Linked DNA regions of Homo sapiens: region 2 is linked to region 1. The links come from fine-mapping of genetic effects on gene expression. A gene starts in region 1. The other region holds a variant in brackets. All regions are shown on one strand. Distances are between the middles of the regions. Region 1 holds the start of CHRNE (cholinergic receptor nicotinic epsilon subunit). Region 2 overlaps MINK1 (misshapen like kinase 1).

Region 1 (8,262 bases):
AGTGGTGGGCCTCTGCCTCGCTCCACCCGCCTCTGGCTCCTGTCCCACCTCGCCGGTGGCCTCCTGATCTCTCGTGCTCTCGGCCACGAAGTTCACGGCATCCACACAGCAGCGGACCTCGGGGGCGGCGGCGCCCAGGCTCTGGCAGAAGGCAGCTGGCGGGGAAAACACCGGGGTGGGCCTTAGGAGCCTCCCCCCTGGCAGGCACCCCGCGCGGCCCCCCGGGCCAGGGCCACTGTGCTCACCCGTCCAGGTCCCCTGCCGGTGCCTCTGCCCCTCAAACACGAGCTCGCTCCGTGGCTTTTTCAGTATCAGCTCCTCCGCGCGGAGCAATAAGCCCACCGACGACGCCCGCCTTGGGGGCGAGGCGGCCCGGGGGGCCTCGGGCGGCGGCGGGGAGCCCAGGAGGCGCGGCAGCAGCTCCAGGAGAACCTGGGGCAGGGGCGGGGCTTAGGGGACGAGGTTAGTACGAAGCCCCACCCCGACCCGGGCTGCACCGCCCCCTCCGCGCTTACGTGGCGCAGCCGCGGGGACATGGCGTGGGTGGTGGGCGTCCGCTGGGACACGTTGAGCACGATGACGCAATTCATGACAATGAGCGTGGCGACCACCATGACGAAAATAAGGAACCTGAGGAGCCCGGAAGGCATGACATCACCGTTCCTCCTCCCAGCTACCGAAGGCGCCGCGCGCTGACCTCACAAACACGGCTTCTCCTGGTACGGGCTGGTTACGCCCTCCAGCTGCGCCCCCTACACGACGACAGACGCGTCCCCCAGCCCTTCTCCTGTCCTACCACTTGTGGCGGCCATGAAGGGGACCCCCAGCTCCCTGGACACCCTGATGTGGATCTACCACTTCCACAGCTCCACCGAGGTGAGGCTACGCCCGCCAAGGGCTGCACCTCGAGACCTTCTGGGTAGGTCTCCTGTTCGCCCCTGTGACCCCTGCCCTGCTACTCTACTGCTCTGCTCCTTCTCCAGGTGGCCCTCCAGCCCCCGCTTCTGTCTTCCCTGGAACTCTCCGTGGCCGCAGCCCATGAATATCTGGAGCAGAGGTTCAGAGAGCTGAAGTCCCTGGAGCCACCCGAACCGAAGATGCAGGGGATGCTGCCTGCCCCGAAGCCCACCCTGGGGCTGGTGTTGAGAGAAGCCACAGCCAGCCTCGTGAGCTTCGGCACCACCTTGTTAGAGGTGGGGTACTGGGGGGCTTAGGATACGCGGCGATCGGGTAGCGGGAACAAGGACCTCTGCCTCCCCGCTAACCCCTGTGCCCCCAATGCAGATCTCAGCCCTGTGGCTGCAGCAGGAGGCGCGGCGACTAGACGGCAGCGCGGGCCCAGCCCCAGACGGCAGGGATCCGGGTGCAGCGCTGAGCCGGGTAGCCCAAGCCGCAGGGCAGGGGGTTCGGCAAGCTGGGGCTGCGGTGGGCGCCAGCGCCCGGCTCCTAGTCCAGGGAGCATGGCTATGCCTGTGTGGACGGGGTCTGCAGGGGTCTGCCTCATTCCTGCGACAGTCGCAACAGCAGCTAGGCCTCGGAATCCCCGGAGAACCGGTGAGCTCAGGACACGGGGTGAGTTAGGGGCCAGAGGCGGCGGGGCTAGGGAGGCACTGAGCCGGACTGTCCCCCAAGAGAGCTACTCGGGAGACCTCCAGGTGACGTCCAGCAGCAGTGAGGAGGACGGCGGACCAGGGACTCCATCCCCGTACCAGCCCCACCCAGCGTCCGAATAAAGCCCAGGGCGGGGCGAGACAGCCAGAGCTTTTCCCGGGGTCTCTGGGTTTTGGCCACGCCCCCACCCTTCACACTGGCCACACCCCCGCGGGGGCTCCGGCTTCACCTGCCCAGGAGCGGCACGCTCAGAGAAGTCTCTGGGATTTTCTGGGCAATGAGGAACAAGAAGACGGTCTGGGCGAGCAGGACGTTGATGGAGACCGTGCATTTCTGGCCGCCGGCTGGAGGGAGAGCCAGTGAGAGCGGGCCCCGCCTCCCGGGAGCGAGCCCGGGTTTGGGGGTAGGTTCGGGGCCACTGCTTACCCTGCGCCGGCAGGAAGTAGGCGAGCAGCACCAGGCCCGAGATGAGCACACAGGGCACGATGATGTTAATGACGTAGAAGAGCGGCTTCCGGCGGATGATGAGCGAGTAGATGACGTCAGTCTCCCCTGGGCCGTCGGTGGCGCCACCGTGGTGGCGGCGGATCACCCCCGGGCAGAAGTCGATGGCCCACTCGCCGTTCTCTGCGGGACGGGGGCACGGTCAGCTGGCTGTCAGAGCGGGGCGCCCGCCGAGCTGACAGCGGGCTGAAGAGGAGGCTGCGGCTGTCTGCACCAGGGTCATGGGCCGTCAGGATGGGGGCAATTACGGACAGAAAAGGGCATTCTCGTTGAGGGTATGGAAAGCCAGAAGGCAGGACTAGAGTAACAATCGAGAATGATTTCAGGACAGGGGTAAGCTAAACCCAGTTGTGGAAGTCATCCTCCAGTGTCGTTGGTCCGGGGCAAGCCCACCGTGGAAGTCCCCTCTCTGGACCCCGTCTAGAAGCGGGTTTTTCTGAGCAGGCAGGGGCTTCACCAGTATAGGCCTCTGTGTCGATGTCGATCTTGTTGATGGTCTTGCCGTCGTTGTCTACGGCAAAAGTGAACTCCACCTCTTCGGCATTGTACGTCTGAGAGCTGCGGAGCCAGGGCCGGGAGCCCACCCCAGAAGCTCTGACCTGGGCCCCGGCCTCAGGCCCAGCCCTGGAAGCTGGGATCTAGCGGGGCCGCGATCCCAAGCCCACCCCTTCACCCAAGCCCAGCCCGCACGCCTCTGTTCCCATCTGTACCTCCGGCCGCGCTGGAGCGTCCCACCCAGTGCCTACGCCTGGCTCCGCCTCCAGCGCGAAGCCCCGCCCCGAGGGCGGTGCTTCCCGGTTGGCCCCGCCCCATAAGGCCCCCCCCCAACAATAATCGTCCGGGCCTCGGAGTAGCTCTTCCCACCGGAAAATAAGCGAACAGTTCTGCCAATCGAAGGGGAAGTAGGTGACCTCCACTGCGCAGACGCTGCGGTAGATGGCCGGAGGCAGCCACGTCACGGAGCCGCCCTCGTAGACGAGCACGTTGGCGTCGTAGGCCACTCCGAACTGGCCATCAATACTGTGGGCTCGGGGAAACCGAGCTTTTTGCACAGGTCTGCACCCTCTCAGAGTACCCCCTTCCCCAACCAAGTCCAGCCCGCACCCCAGGCCGGCTTCCCTCCAGCCTGGCGTCTGGCCCGGTTCTCACTTGTTTTCCAGCACAATCTCTGGCAGCCACACGAGTTCTGAAGGGACTCGCAGGGTTTCTATACCCCCAAAGTCGTCCTTGCTGTAGTTGAGTCGGTAATCCTGCCAATCCTAAGGGGTGGGGGATGGAAGGCCGCGTGCCCTGCATCTCCCACCTGGCGCTGCCTGGGAGGGGTTTGGGGGAAAAGGGGTGCCCTGGACAAGACCTCACACCATTCCCCAGATTTGACTCACGATTCCAATCCAGACGCTAGTGGTGAGAGTCTCCTCTTTTTCATTCTGCAGATGGGAGATGGGGATGATTGAAGTGAGATTTCAGGGCCAGAAGTGAGCTTTAGGACAGAGCTCAGCGGTTGGGGCCAGAAGTGGGATTTTTGGCTTAAGATGAGGGTGGGGGTAGCTTACCAGTGAGATGAGATTCGTCAGGGTGACCTTGAGGCTGATGGTGACAGTATCCTCAGGCTCCCGCACTGGCCGGCTTCCTGGGTCATAGTTGTTGAAGAGATGGTGATAAAGACGCAGTTCCTCGTTCTTCCCCACACCCCTGCCTGCGATGGGGTCAAGAAGGAAGGGTCATTGGCAATGAAGAGGCTGGAGCACCTCTCTCCCCTCTGCCTCCCCTGGGTCCTCACAGGCCTCTGAGGCTGTGTACTATCAGTATCTGTCTCCTAAACCAATTATGCTGTGCCTGGGAACGAAATACTGTGTCTAAGTCTCCATCTTGGTCTCTGTCTTTGTCTTCCCAGTCCCTTCATGTCAGTATCTGTGTGTGTCCAATTGCCCCTCTAGCCCCTGTCCGTACCGAGAAGCCCCAAGAGGAGCAGGACCCCAAGCGGAGCCCTTGCCATCCTGCTGCGTGGTTCTCAGGGTTATTCTGAGCTCTGGCAGGCTTGGAGGGGGCATGCCAGGGTGCCTGTGTGAGGGGGAGGAGGGTGTTAGTTCCGGGCTGTTAGGGGACTGTCACCTAATCCTCTGCTCACCCCTGCTGCAGCTGGGGACATTTTGGCTGCTTCCAGAGGCAGCTGCCCCATCCTGTGTTTCCTGCCCCTGCCCCGCCCCAGCCCAGCGTCCTTTGCCTGGTATTTGGCCAACTCCCCAGCCACAGATGTGGGCGTCTCCTGAGAGGCACCTGCAACCACAATTCTAGTAGCAGGGGGTGGGAGACACTGCTTTCAGCAGGCACTGTTGTCCTTTGAGTAAGCTGCCCTGTGTAGGTGACCCTGACTGATGAACACATCTGGGGATGTGACACACCCCTTGCCTCCCATTCTCACCCATGTGGAACACACACTATCACCACCCAAGCTCACAATGCCTTTCTTGCCGACAGAGTGGCAAAAAACAGTCTCCATAAAGACCTGATAAAGAGACAGGTGGTCACAGGGGATTAGCCCTGCGGTACAGAGATTCCATCTAGCAAAGGAGATCATGTAAAGGACCCACCTCCTTCCACAACCTGATCGCCAGGTTTGCCCATGCCCAGCCCCTCTGGGTGGGAGACTTGTTTCTCCTTGTCTATCCCTGCTGCCACCTTGTGGTCACAGATGATAGTACCGTCTTCCCATCCTACTCTCCTAAACACACACGTGCACACATACACACACACCTGATGACACCTTAATAGATCCTTTTGATGTTCCTTTTTAAAAAAAATTTTTTTGAGACCAAGTCTCGCTCTGGCGCCCAGACTGGAGTGCAGTGGCATGATCTCGGCTCACTGCAACCTCCGCCTCCCGGGTTCAAGCGATTCTCCTGCCTCAACCTCTGGAGTAGCTGGGACTACAGGCGCATGCCACCATGCCCGGCTAATTTTTGTATTTTTTAGTAGAGATGGGGTTTCACCATGTTAGCCAGGATGGTCTCGATCTCCTGACCTCGTGAGCCACCTACCTGGGCCTCCCAAAGTGCTGGGATTATAGGCGTGAGCCACCGCGCCCAGCCTCGATGTTTTTTGTTTTTCTGTTTCTTTTTTTGTTTTTTGTTTTTTGCAGGGGGTGGGGGGACAGGATCTCACTCTGTCACCCAGACAGGAGTACAGTGGCACCACCATAGTTCACTGCGGCTCTCAAACTCCTGGGCTAAAGCGATCCTCCTGCCTCAGCTTCCCAAAGGGTTAGGATTACAGGTGTGAGCCACCACGCCCGGCCTCAGTGTTTTTTAAAGCCTTCTTGAACCATTCTAATCACCTGGAGGGGTGCTTATTTTAAATTCAGATTCCTAGGCTCCATTCCCAGAGAATTATGATTTCGGGACTAGGGTGCCAGGAATCTGTATTTTTAGGAAACTGTCCAGGTGTTCCTCGTGAGGTAGGAGGGGCTGGCCTAAGCATATTTTCTGCTTACATCTCATTTCCTCACAGCAGTCCAGCAAAGCAATGATCACTGTCCTGAATACATGAAAGGGGATGCTAAGGTCGGGATCCAGGGTCACACAAGTAGATTGGCAATAATGCATGAGACTTATCAATCAACTCTATTGATCTCGCACACCTGTGTTTATTTTACCCTTCACAAAACACTTTCGGGTCCATCACCTTTGGGTCTCCTTCCCCCACCTATGAGGTAGGTCATAATCACCTCCATGTTACAAGCGAGGACACATCAAATAACAGAGTGTCCTCCTAGTCCATTTCCCACACTTGTGTAAAGCCTCTGTTTCCACTGCTGCCTTATCAACCCCACGATTTCCATTTCAGACTCCCTTTCTGGGTCTCTTTGACCCAGCTTACCTCTTTGCATGTGGCTGGTACATGGACTAAGTCTCAAATCTGTGCTGCTGCTTATTCCAGAGCTTCCGCGTCAAGGCTTGGGACAAGAATTGTGATAAATGCAAATATTTATTCAAACATCAGTGGACACCTACAAAGTTCCCCCTTACAGGGCCGAGTGCTACGGTTATTGAGATGGATAAAACAAGCCTCAAGGAGTTATCATCTAATGACAGAGACCTATCAACAGCCAGTGATGCCAGACTATGAGAAGCATAAAAATAAACAGGTGCTATAGAATCTGTAGCTAGGGTGAATCAGATCTGTCAGAAAAGCAAGGTTTTGGCCAGGCACAGTGGCTCATGCCTGTAATCCTAACTATTTGGGAGGCTGAGGCTGGAGCATCACTTGAGCCCAGGAGTTCAAGACCAGCCTGGGCAACACAGTGAGACCCCCCATCTCTACAAAAATAAATAAACAACAACAAAAAATATTAGCCAGGCATCATGGTGCATGCCTGTAGTCCCAGCTACTTAGGAGGCTGAGGCGGGAGGATTGCTTGACCCTAAGAGATCAAGGACACAGTGAGCTACGATCACACTACACTCCAGCCTGGGTGACAAGCGAGACCCTATCTCAAAAAAATGAAGTTTCCGGCTGGATGCGGTGGCTCAACACCTGTAATCCCAGCACTTTGGGAGGCCAAGGCAGGTGGACCACCTGAGGTCAAGAGTTCGAGACCAGTCTGGCCAACATGGTGAAACCCCATCTCTACTAAAAACACAAAAATTAGCTGGGTGTGGTGGCTGGCACCTGTAATCCCAGCTACTCGGGAGGCTGAGGCAGGAGAATCACTTGAACCTGGGAGACGGAGGTTGCAGTGAGCCGAGATCGTGCCACTGCACTCCAGCCCGGGTGACAGAGTGAGACTCCATCTCAAAAAACAAAAAAATGAAGTTTCTCCTAGGTTTCCTGTAGTCTTGCACATGGACTGGAACTTACTAGACCAGTGTCAGAGGCCAAGGCAGCTCCAGAGCCTGTCTCCTGATCTGTCTCTGCCGCTCTGTCCGCTCTCTGCTCCTCTCACTTCGTCAGCACTGCCCATTCCCCCTACTTTGCATGTCCCCTTTCTACTGTGTAGTTTCTGCTTTCTCGTCACCTGTGCATCATTTCACCATGGTCTTAGCCCCAGACCAACTTCTTGGCTTCTCTCTGCAGAGGCAGCACTTTTGTTCCCGTTGCTACTGCCTGATGCTCTGAGGGCTTGGGGTGCCAACACTGAAGAAGGATCATGGGGTTGGCCTAAGACTGCCTTGTTTAGGATGGATAGTGGGTGTGGCAGGCCCTGACACCACATGTCTGGTAATTCACCCTCTAGCAACCCAGCCCACTTCTCCTATATGTTTAGCTCCCAAAACGGCCTGCCAGGATGCCATTCTCACTGCTAGAGCTGAAATATATACAAATATATGAAATATACATAAATTAATACAGTTAATATAAATTCACTCTATCCTCCCCAGCAGGATTCAAACTTGAAATCTTGCTTCAAAAAGTGATTATGAGAAAAAAAATCTAATAATCTGATCAAAAAGAGGGCAGAAGATTTGAATAGACGCTTCTCAAAATAAGACACACAAATGCCAAACAGGTATAAGAAAACGTGCTCAGCATCATTGGTCATCACTGGGAGGCTGAGGTAGGAGAATTGCTTGAGCCTGGGAGTTCAAGACCAGCCTGGGCAATATAGTGAGACCTCATCTGTAAATAAATAAATAAAATTTTAAAAAACAGATGAATGGTGAGCCAAGATCATGCCACTGCATCCTAGCCTGGGAAACAAGAGAGAAAACTGTTTAAAAAAAAAAGAAAAAAGAAAAACACAGATGAATGGATAAAGCAAATGTGGTACATATACACAATGGAGCACCATTCACCCATAAAAAAGGATGAGATCCTGTCATTTGCAACAACATGAATGGAACTGGAGATCATTATGTTAGGTGAAATAAGCCAGGCACAGAAAGACAATCATTGCATGTTCTCACTTATTTGTGGGAGTTAAAAATCAAAACAATTGACCTCATGGACATAGAGAGTAGAAGGATGGTTACCAGAGGCTGGGAAGGGTAGTGGGCAGGTAGGTGGATGGTGGGGATGGTTAATGGGTACAAAAAAAATAGAATAAGACCTACTATTTGATAGCACAACAGAGTGACTGTAGTCAATAATAATTTCATTGTACATGTTAAAAAAAACTTAAGAGTGTAATTGCATGGTTGGTAACTTAAA
Region 2 (8,326 bases), 48 kb before region 1:
GCTGGCCCCCCCCGCCCTCTACCTGTTCTTCCTACAGCTGACTCAGCTTCACACCCTCTCCCTCTCCTTCCAGGATCTCTTTTCCTGTCCCCTTGTCCTTCAGAGCTTTCCTTCCTAAGTTTTCTCTCATGGCCTGTCATTGGTCTTCTGGAATTCGAAATCATATGGGTACAGGTCACAAGTTTTCTTGGTCATGAAGCTTCTCTAGTCTCTTCCTTGGGTTTGTGGACACCTGACTCCCACAGAAGGAGGCTGGCAATAAGATATAATGATCTGTTTGTGCTGCAATTGAAAACCAGCAGCAAGAAGCCTTATTATTATCCAACCCCTCATTACTAGTGTTGTCCTCCTCCGTTAGCTTGGTATCTGCCAGCCTGAACGGGCCTGGCATCTCCTTTCTGCCCCCTCCCACTGCCATGCTGTGCCCTTCCTTGCTCTCTCTGGTGTCTGCTTCCCAGGGACTGGCCCTCCTCCCTGCCCCTGTCAGCCTGCCTCCGAGGCCACAGATCTGGTTTTCCTCCCTTCTGTCTCACCTGCCTTCCTCTCAATTCTACTTTTTATCTTGTTTCTTCTCTCCTGAACTGCCACACTTCACCCTAAATCCCAGTAACGCCAACAGTTTTGGTAAATCACTTTTTGCCACAGTTTTGCCTTGCTTTGTGGGAGCCAGTTTCTTCATAATGACTCTATGCAAATTTGTAGCATTTTATGGATTTTAAAATGTTTCCACATCGGTGAATTCTTGTGAAATGGGCCTGGGTAGATAAGGAAAAGAACCTCCAAGAGGTTAAGTGATTTGCGGATTTGCCTAAATTATACAGAAGAGTCAGAACCAGTGCCCAGGCCTTCTGATTCTTAGTGCAGTAAACACTAAGCACCATCATTCCATTTCACCACACTCCTGTCTTGCTGTTGTCCTCAGCTAAGAAAGCCTACCCCTGAGTTACCCTCTTCCATCTTAGAGCCTTCCTGCTCGCTGTCTGCCCCCCTGCGATGGGGACTTCTTTGGCCCTTCTCACCCAGCCCAGCCTCTGCCCGTTTCCTTCTCCTTTCCACTGCGCTGAGCTCTTTTCTCCTCCGAGAAGCCTTCCCTTCATCTCTCCTGGCCCCATTGTCTCCCGACCTCTTTGGGCCATTATTAGTGTTCCCGTGTGGTTTTTGCCAACCACGTAGGAATTCCCTGCCTTAAGAAAGTCCACTCTCGGGCCGTGCGTGGTGGCTCACGCCTGTAATCCCAGCACTTTAGGAGGCCAAGGTGGGTGGATCACCTGAGGTCAGGAGTTCAAGACCAGCCTGACCAACAAGGTAAACCCTGTCTCTACTAAAAATACAAAAATTAGCCGGGTGTGGTGGCTTGTGCCTGTAATCCCAACTACTTGGGAGGCTGGGACAGGAGAATCACTTGAATCGGGGAGGCAGAGGATGCGGTGAGCTGAGATCACCCCACTGCACTCCAGCCTGGGCAACAGAGTGAGACTCTGTCTCAAAAAAAAAAAAAAAAAAAAAAAAAAAACTAAGAAAGTCCACTCTCTGGTAAAACATTTACCAAGCATATAAATTATGAGGTGCTGATTCATATGACAAAAAGGAGATTCACTTTTAGTAGCTGCTCTAATGCATTCCACTTAAGTGAATATTCAAGGATTATTTTGGAAGGATGGAGATAATCCAAAACTAGTGTGAGAAACTGCTGCATTAAGGAAGGAGGGAGGTTTTTCTAGATAACTGCTGCATTAAGGAAGGAGGGAGGTTTTTCTTTTATTTCTGTATTCATTCATTCCACAGACAGGTATTGAGGGCAGCCCTGACCTCCAAGAACTTAGTCTAGCAGAGGAGACAGATAAGAGAATCAATCACAAAAATGTAATTGGTGTCACGAAAGAGTCAGTACAGGGTATTGTGGGAGGAGAGGATTGTGAGGGGCACTTCCTGGAGGTGACATTGTCTCAGTGGAGGTCGGGAGGCACAGGCACGAGGCATCCAGGTAAAGAGGAGGAGAGTGATGAACAGCATGTGGAGACCCAGGAGTGAGAAGGAACAGAGAGAAAGCCACTAGTTAGTGCAGTGTTCCTGCCCCTCTGCCTCATCCCCACACCAGCAAGAACCAAAAGGCACCAGCATGAGAATTGGCAAGGCTCCAGGTAAACCATAGCTGGGATATTCAGCTGTACAGCAGTCATATGTGAGCCTGAGGAAGAACCTGTTTGGCCCACAGAGGGAGACAGAATCTACTGGGTGGGGGGGGTGTGATTTGTGGGGGAGTGTGGTTGATGGGTGGAGTGTGTTTGGTGGGGGAGTGTGGTTTGTGGGGGAGTGTGGTTGGTGGGGGAGTGTGGTTGGTGGGGGAGTGTGGTTGGTGGGGGAGTGTGATTTGTGGGGGAGTGTGGTTGGTGGGGGAGTGTGGTTGTTGGGGGGAGTGTGGTTGAGGGGGAGTGTGGTTGGTGGGGAGTGTGGTTGGTGGAGGAGTGTGATTGATGGGGGAGTGTGGTTGGTGGGGGGAGTGTGGTTGGTGGGGAGAGTGTGGTTGAGGGGGAGTGTGGTTGGTGGGGGGAGTGTGGTTGATGGGGGGAGTGTGGTTGGTGGGGGAAGTGTGGTTGGGGGAGTGTGGTGGGGGGAGTGTGGTTGGTGGGGGAGTGTGGTTGGTGGGGGAGTGTGGTTGAGGGGGAGTGTGGTTGGTGGGGGGAGTGTGGTTGGTGGGGGGAGTGTGGTTGGTGAGGGAGTGTGGTTGGTGGGAAGAGTGTGGTTGGTGGGGGGAATGTGGTTGGTAGGTAGAGTGGTTGGTGGGGGAGTGTGGTTGGTGGGAAGAGTGTGGTTGGTGGGGGAGTGTGGTTGGTGGGAAGAGTGTGGTTGGGGGGAGTGTGGTTGGTGGGAAGAGTGTGGTTGGGGGAGTGTGGTTGGTGGAGTGTGGTTGAGGGGGAGTGTGGTTGGTGGGGGGAGTGTGGTTGGTGGGAAGAGTGTGGTTGGTGGGGGAGTGTGGTTGTTGCTGTGTGCCATCGGAAGGCTATGCAAGTTTGAGCGCTTGCTTCACCTTGACAAACATTTCACTTGTTAGAGCCCTGGCTTTCTCATCTGTGCTCTGAGCTAGTCATTCCTGCCAAGCTTCCCTGCAGGTTTAAGTGCAGATGCAGTCATGACTGTGAAAGCACCCTGTGAACTGTAAAGTCTGGGCAGTTGGGTGGTGGTAGGAGAGGCAGCAACTGTGAGAGGATGAACTTGATTCTGCTGATCTCGGACGGAAACTGATTCTTGGGAGAGAGACAGAATCAAACGGCTCTGACATTTGAAAAGCCATGGCCTCGCTTACCTACAGTGAGACTTGAGAAGAAGTGCTGGGGAGGTAAAGGCTGAGATACCACCTCCGCTGCCTGAAAGACTTTGCAAGATACTCCAGCTGGGGATAGGAGATGGCTAGAATGACCTCCAACTATCTTCACACCCGAGGCTGGGGCTGCCCTTCCAGGCCTGCAGTTCTGTATTTTCCCTTAGAAGGTTCTGGAGGCAGACGGAACCTCAGAAGCAAACGGTTTATTTTTTAGGTTTTTCAGTTTATTTTTAAATTTCTGACTGTGATGGTGTTTATTTTTTCCTTTTCCCTTTCCCCACTTCCCCGGCTCAGCATCAGAAAGGGACCATCTGTCCGTTGCCTTGCTGTGGCCATTTTAGAACCAGCGCAAGGCTGCTTGAATCTGGTCCCCTCTTCTCCCTCACTCCCTCCCCCACCACCTGGCTTTCTCTACTCTGCACTGCCTGCTTTCATCCAGCTCCCTCCAGGTGTCAGCTGCCACCTCTTATAGGCCTCCATCTGTGAAGACCTCCAGGCTGAGTCCAGCCACCAGACCAGGGCCCCTGTCTGAGGCAGCCAGATCTGTGGGGAACCTAGACATGGAGGCAGCAAAATTACCCTTTGAGAGGAGGAGGGGAATAAATTCCAGTCTCCTTGCTCCAGGCAGGGCCCCTCTGCTCTGACTGGTTTCTGATGAGAATGGTATGTGTATTCATGTATGTGTCATGTCCTGACTTGTTTCTGCCTCTGCATGTACCTGCAAGTCAGTGTGTGTGTGCATGCGTGTGTCTCACACATCCCTCTGGCATAGAGATCCATGAGTGATTTATAAACTGCCTTTCCTCCCATCACATAAATATTTTTCCTGGTTTCTTCGCCTTCCTTCTACTTCTAGAACTGGCCTGATTTCCTCCCCTCCAGTGCTTCATTCCCATAAAAACACTTCAAAACACAGGTAGCCATCGATAGACAGAGGACAAGTACTTCACGTTGTGGATTCAGAATAAAAAGATCCGGTTGAGTTCCACAGTGTGAGAGGCAGGGTTAGCAGAGTGGAGAGTCTGTTTCAGAGAGTAAGAAG[C/A]GCTGAGAAAAGGAGTTTTTTTGAAGGCTTCATTAAAAAGAGTCCAGGCTGGGCGCGGTGGCTCCCGCCTATAGTCCCAGCACTTTGGGAGGCCCAGGTGGGCAGATCACTTGAGGTCAGCAATTCGAGACCAGCCTGGCCAACATGGTGAAACCCCATCTCTACTAAAAATACAAAAGATTAGCCGGGCGTGGTGGTGGGCGCCTATAGTCCCAGCTATTACTATACTTAGGAAGCTGAGGCAGGAGAATTGCTTGAACCTAGAAGGGGAGGTTGCAGTGAGCTGAGATTGTGCCACCACACTCCTGTCTTAAAAAAAAAAAAAAGGCCAGGCATGGTGGCTCACACCTGTAATCCCAGCACTTTGGGAGGCTGAGGCAGGTGGATCACGAGGTCAGGAGATCAAGACCATCCTGGCTAACAAGGTGAAACCCCGTCTCTACTAAAAATACAAAAAATTAGCTGGGCGTGGTGGCGGGCGCCTGTAGTCCCAGCTACTCAGGAGGCTGAGGCAGGAGAATGGCGTGAACCTCGGAGGTGGAGCTTGCAGTGAGCTGAGATTGTGGCATTGCACTCCAGCCTGGGCGACAGAGCGAGACTCCATCTCAAAAAAAAAAAAAAAGGCCGGGCACAGTGGCTCATGCCTGTAATCCCAGCACTTTGGGAGGCCGAGGCGGGCGGATCATGAGGTCAGAAGGTTGAGACAGCAGTGAAACCCCATATCTACTAAACATACAAAAAATTAGCCGAGTGTGGTGGCAGGTGCCTGTAGTCCCAGCTACTCGGGAGGCTGAGGCAGGAGAATGGCGTGAACCTGGGAGGCGGAGGTTGCAGTGAGCCGAGATCGCGCCACTGCACTCCAGCCTGGGCGACAGAGCAAGACTCCGTCTCAAAAAAAAAAAAAAAAAAGAAAGAAACCCCATCTCTACTAAAAATACAAAAAAAATCAGCTGGATGTGGTAGCAGGCACCTGTAATCCCAGCTACTCAGGAGGCTGAGGCGGGAGAATCACTTGAACCTGGGAGATGGAAGTTGCAGTGAGCTGAGATCATGCCACTGCACTCCAGCCTGGGTGACAAAAGCGAGACTCTATCTCAAAAAAAAAAAAAAAGTCCAGTTGATGGTGGTATATCATGGACAGTAGGAAATTGATGAGGGTATCAGCCTGCCTTCTCTCTTCCTTTCATTTGCTCAGTGGAGAGATGCTGGTGACCCCTTCTCCTTCTCTCGCCATAGGAACATTTAATCTGTCTCATGCTTTGGCTTTGGGCCTGCCATTCACCCCAAGCACCTTGGGGTATAAGTGGGGATGATGCTGTCTACCTGCTTCCTAGTTGGCTCTGGGGTAAATGGAGACTTCTTCAGGCCTGGGAGGCCACCTCCCATTGAGAAAGGCAAGCATCTCGCGCTCTACTTACCCTCTGGGTCCTTGAGGGGCTGTGTCCAGTATCTCTGCTTGGGTAGGAAGGAGGTGATCTTATCAGACTTTTCCTGCCACTTCCCTGTCTCCAGCTCACACACCCACTCCCGTTTTCTCTCTCTTACGTACTCACACTCTCTTTTTTTTTTCTTTCCCTCCCCCGACATCTGAGAACTTTATCAGACACAGCTGCCGCACAGGGCCTGGCAGCGCGGGCTGGAGAGGGTGGTTCCATCCAAGGAGCCTCCGCAATGGGAACCTCCATGACGTGACAGATAGGTGGGAGATGAGGGCTGCTCCACAGGGGTATGGACAGGCCAAATCTTTATAAATATCTAATGAAGAGAAAATGACAACTCTAATTCATCCTTATACATAGAGTACTCAAGGGAGATGGGTGGGGCATCCAGGGGCCTGAGTCCTCACTGGTCGGGGACCTGGATGGGTGATGAGTAGGTTCAGATGTCCACAGCATGGGGCGGGAGGGGGCAAGGCCTGGCCAACAGACGATGAACACGAGGACACTGTACACTTAGAAGATCAACTACTGAGGGCCAGCTGCCCAGCACATGCGTGTCAGGCTGTTTGTTCCGGAATGAGGAGGGGTGGTCTTTACATCGTATTCTGTGACTGGTGGGTTTTGAGAGGGGCTGCTTTGTGGAGAGAATGAGCACCTTGGCAAAGATGAGGATCAGTATCATGCCTACAAATAGTCGGGGCTGCTGGGCAGTGCCACACTTGCCAGTGTCCCCCACGATGACGATGGCAAAGCCGGCTGCCAGGCCACTCAGGCCAGCGCCCAGCTGGAGGAAACTGCTATAGAGACTGTTGTCATCATTCAGGGAGTTGGCAGGGGGGACAGCCGCCACTAGGCCATAGATGGTGATGATACCAGCCATGACCACTGGGATGATGGACTTCATGTGGATCAGCTCTGGCCACATGACAGACATGGCCATGATGCCGGTGCCATTCTTGGCCATGCCACAGGCAGCACCCAGGCCACTGGAGACCATGGTGGCCATAGCACCCGAGATGGTGAAAACCAAAGCATACTCGGGGCTGTTGTTGGACATGTCTGTGAGTGGGGAGGGGGACAAGGATGGGCATGGCAGAGAGTGAGTGCAAAGACAGTGGACTAGTGGCAGCAAAGATGCTGGTTTTTTTTTTTTTTTTTTTTTTTTTTGAGATGGAGTGTCACTCTGTAGCCCAAGCTGGAATGCAATGGTGCGATCTCAGCTCACTTCAACCTCTGCCTCCAGGGCTCAAGCCATTCTCATGCCTCAGCCTCCCGAGTAGCTGGAACTATAGGCACGCACCACCATGCCCAGCTAATTTTTTGTATTTTTAGTAGAGATGGGGTTTCACCATGTTGCCCCGTATGGTCTCAAACTCCTGAGCTCAGGCAATCCGCCAGCCTTGGCATCCCAAAGTGCTGCGATTATAGGGGTGAGCCACCGCGCCCAGCCAAGATGCTCTTTCTTACCACACACACACCCTCCTATTTCTTTTCTTATGCACACACACAGACACACACACAGCCTTTAGCTACTCCTAATTGAAGGGTGCCTAAGACACCACCCTTCTGTCAGAATACTTGCCCCTACTTCCAAATCTCTGCCAGTACTGTATCCTTGTGGAACTTAACTTAAATTGTTGGGGAGACCCCATCTGTCCTTTGTCTCTCAGGCCCTTATCCCTTCCCCTGTGGTGGCTTCAGAATATCTCCTACAGATGGGGTTTAGGGTTAGTAATCTGGTGGTACTGGGGCTAAGGGATAGGTTTTAAAGCTCCATTTGCATAGCAGTCACTATTTTAACACTTAGATTGTTGGTGTTTTGGGGTGTCTTTAAGGGAGCTGATGAATTTATGGGAGGCTAAATATCCCCTCCCCCACTGGGTATAGCCACTGCCTTTGCCCCCCTCTTCCTCTCTGTGTGGGCCTTCTGGATTACAGGAAGAGCTCAGGAAAACAGGCCTATTGTTTTCATCTGGGAGGGGGGAGGGCCTCCCAGGCCAGCTCAGGCTCACTGTCCTTTGAACTGGTACCCGATAAACAGAGGCTCCAAGACGCTGGCAGCCTTGTTCTTCCAAGGCAAGGGAGTTATTTGGCTTGAGACTTTATTCTGTTCTGCCAGCTCTTGTTGGTTCCCTGTTTATTTTTTTTTAATTTAAATTTAATTTTTTTTTTTTTTTGAGACGAGGTCTTGCTCTGTTGCCCAGGCTGGAGTGCAGTGGTGCAGTCTCGGCTCACTGCAACCTCCGCCTCCCAGTCTCAAGTGATTCTCATGCCTTACCCTCCTGAGTAGCTGGGATTACAGGCATGCACTACCATGCCCAGCTAATTTTTGTATTTGTAATAGAGATGGGGTTTCACCATGTTGGCCAGACTTGGTTCCCTCTTTAGACCACAAGTTCCCATTCTCTTTCCCTAGTGTCCTATGAAATTCTCTTCTCCCGCTTCCGCATCTGTTTTTCTCTATCACAGGTTTCTCAGAATCTTTCTGGCTGCTGTATAGTCAGTCCTGGTATGGTTAGTAAC

The links. PIP is the estimated chance that this variant, and not a neighbour inherited with it, causes the effect.
Region 2: its variant is the best candidate, but not a certain one, in a credible set for the expression of CHRNE in whole blood (TOPMed, PIP 0.71).

The regions. Positions count from the first base shown.
Region 1 is chr17:4,898,953-4,907,214 of GRCh38, forward strand. It overlaps CHRNE (cholinergic receptor nicotinic epsilon subunit), which reads right to left and starts at 4,146. Exons shown (of 12, transcript NM_000080.4): 1 at 4,066-4,146; 2 at 3,669-3,811; 3 at 3,498-3,542; 4 at 3,265-3,374; 5 at 2,980-3,135; 6 at 2,573-2,673; 7 at 2,038-2,238; 8 at 1,841-1,955; 9 at 516-630; 10 at 246-432; 11 at 49-155. The coding sequence starts at 4,111. C17orf107 (chromosome 17 open reading frame 107) reads left to right here and starts at 584. Exons shown (of 3, transcript NM_001145536.2): 1 at 584-876; 2 at 984-1,193; 3 at 1,285-3,982. The coding sequence starts at 811. The coding sequence ends at 1,581. RefSeq lists silencers at 181-330, 351-460, 4,682-4,976 and enhancers at 661-970, 2,858-3,499, 3,500-4,141, 4,331-4,550.
Region 2 is chr17:4,850,515-4,858,840 of GRCh38, forward strand. The region is part of intron 1 of MINK1 (misshapen like kinase 1); the gene reads left to right. It also overlaps the pseudogene ATP6V0CP1. Among named protein-coding and RNA genes, the nearest start is that of MINK1, 21 kb to the left of the region's middle. RefSeq lists an enhancer at 3,332-4,283. The variant C/A (reference allele first, on the strand shown) is at 4,365.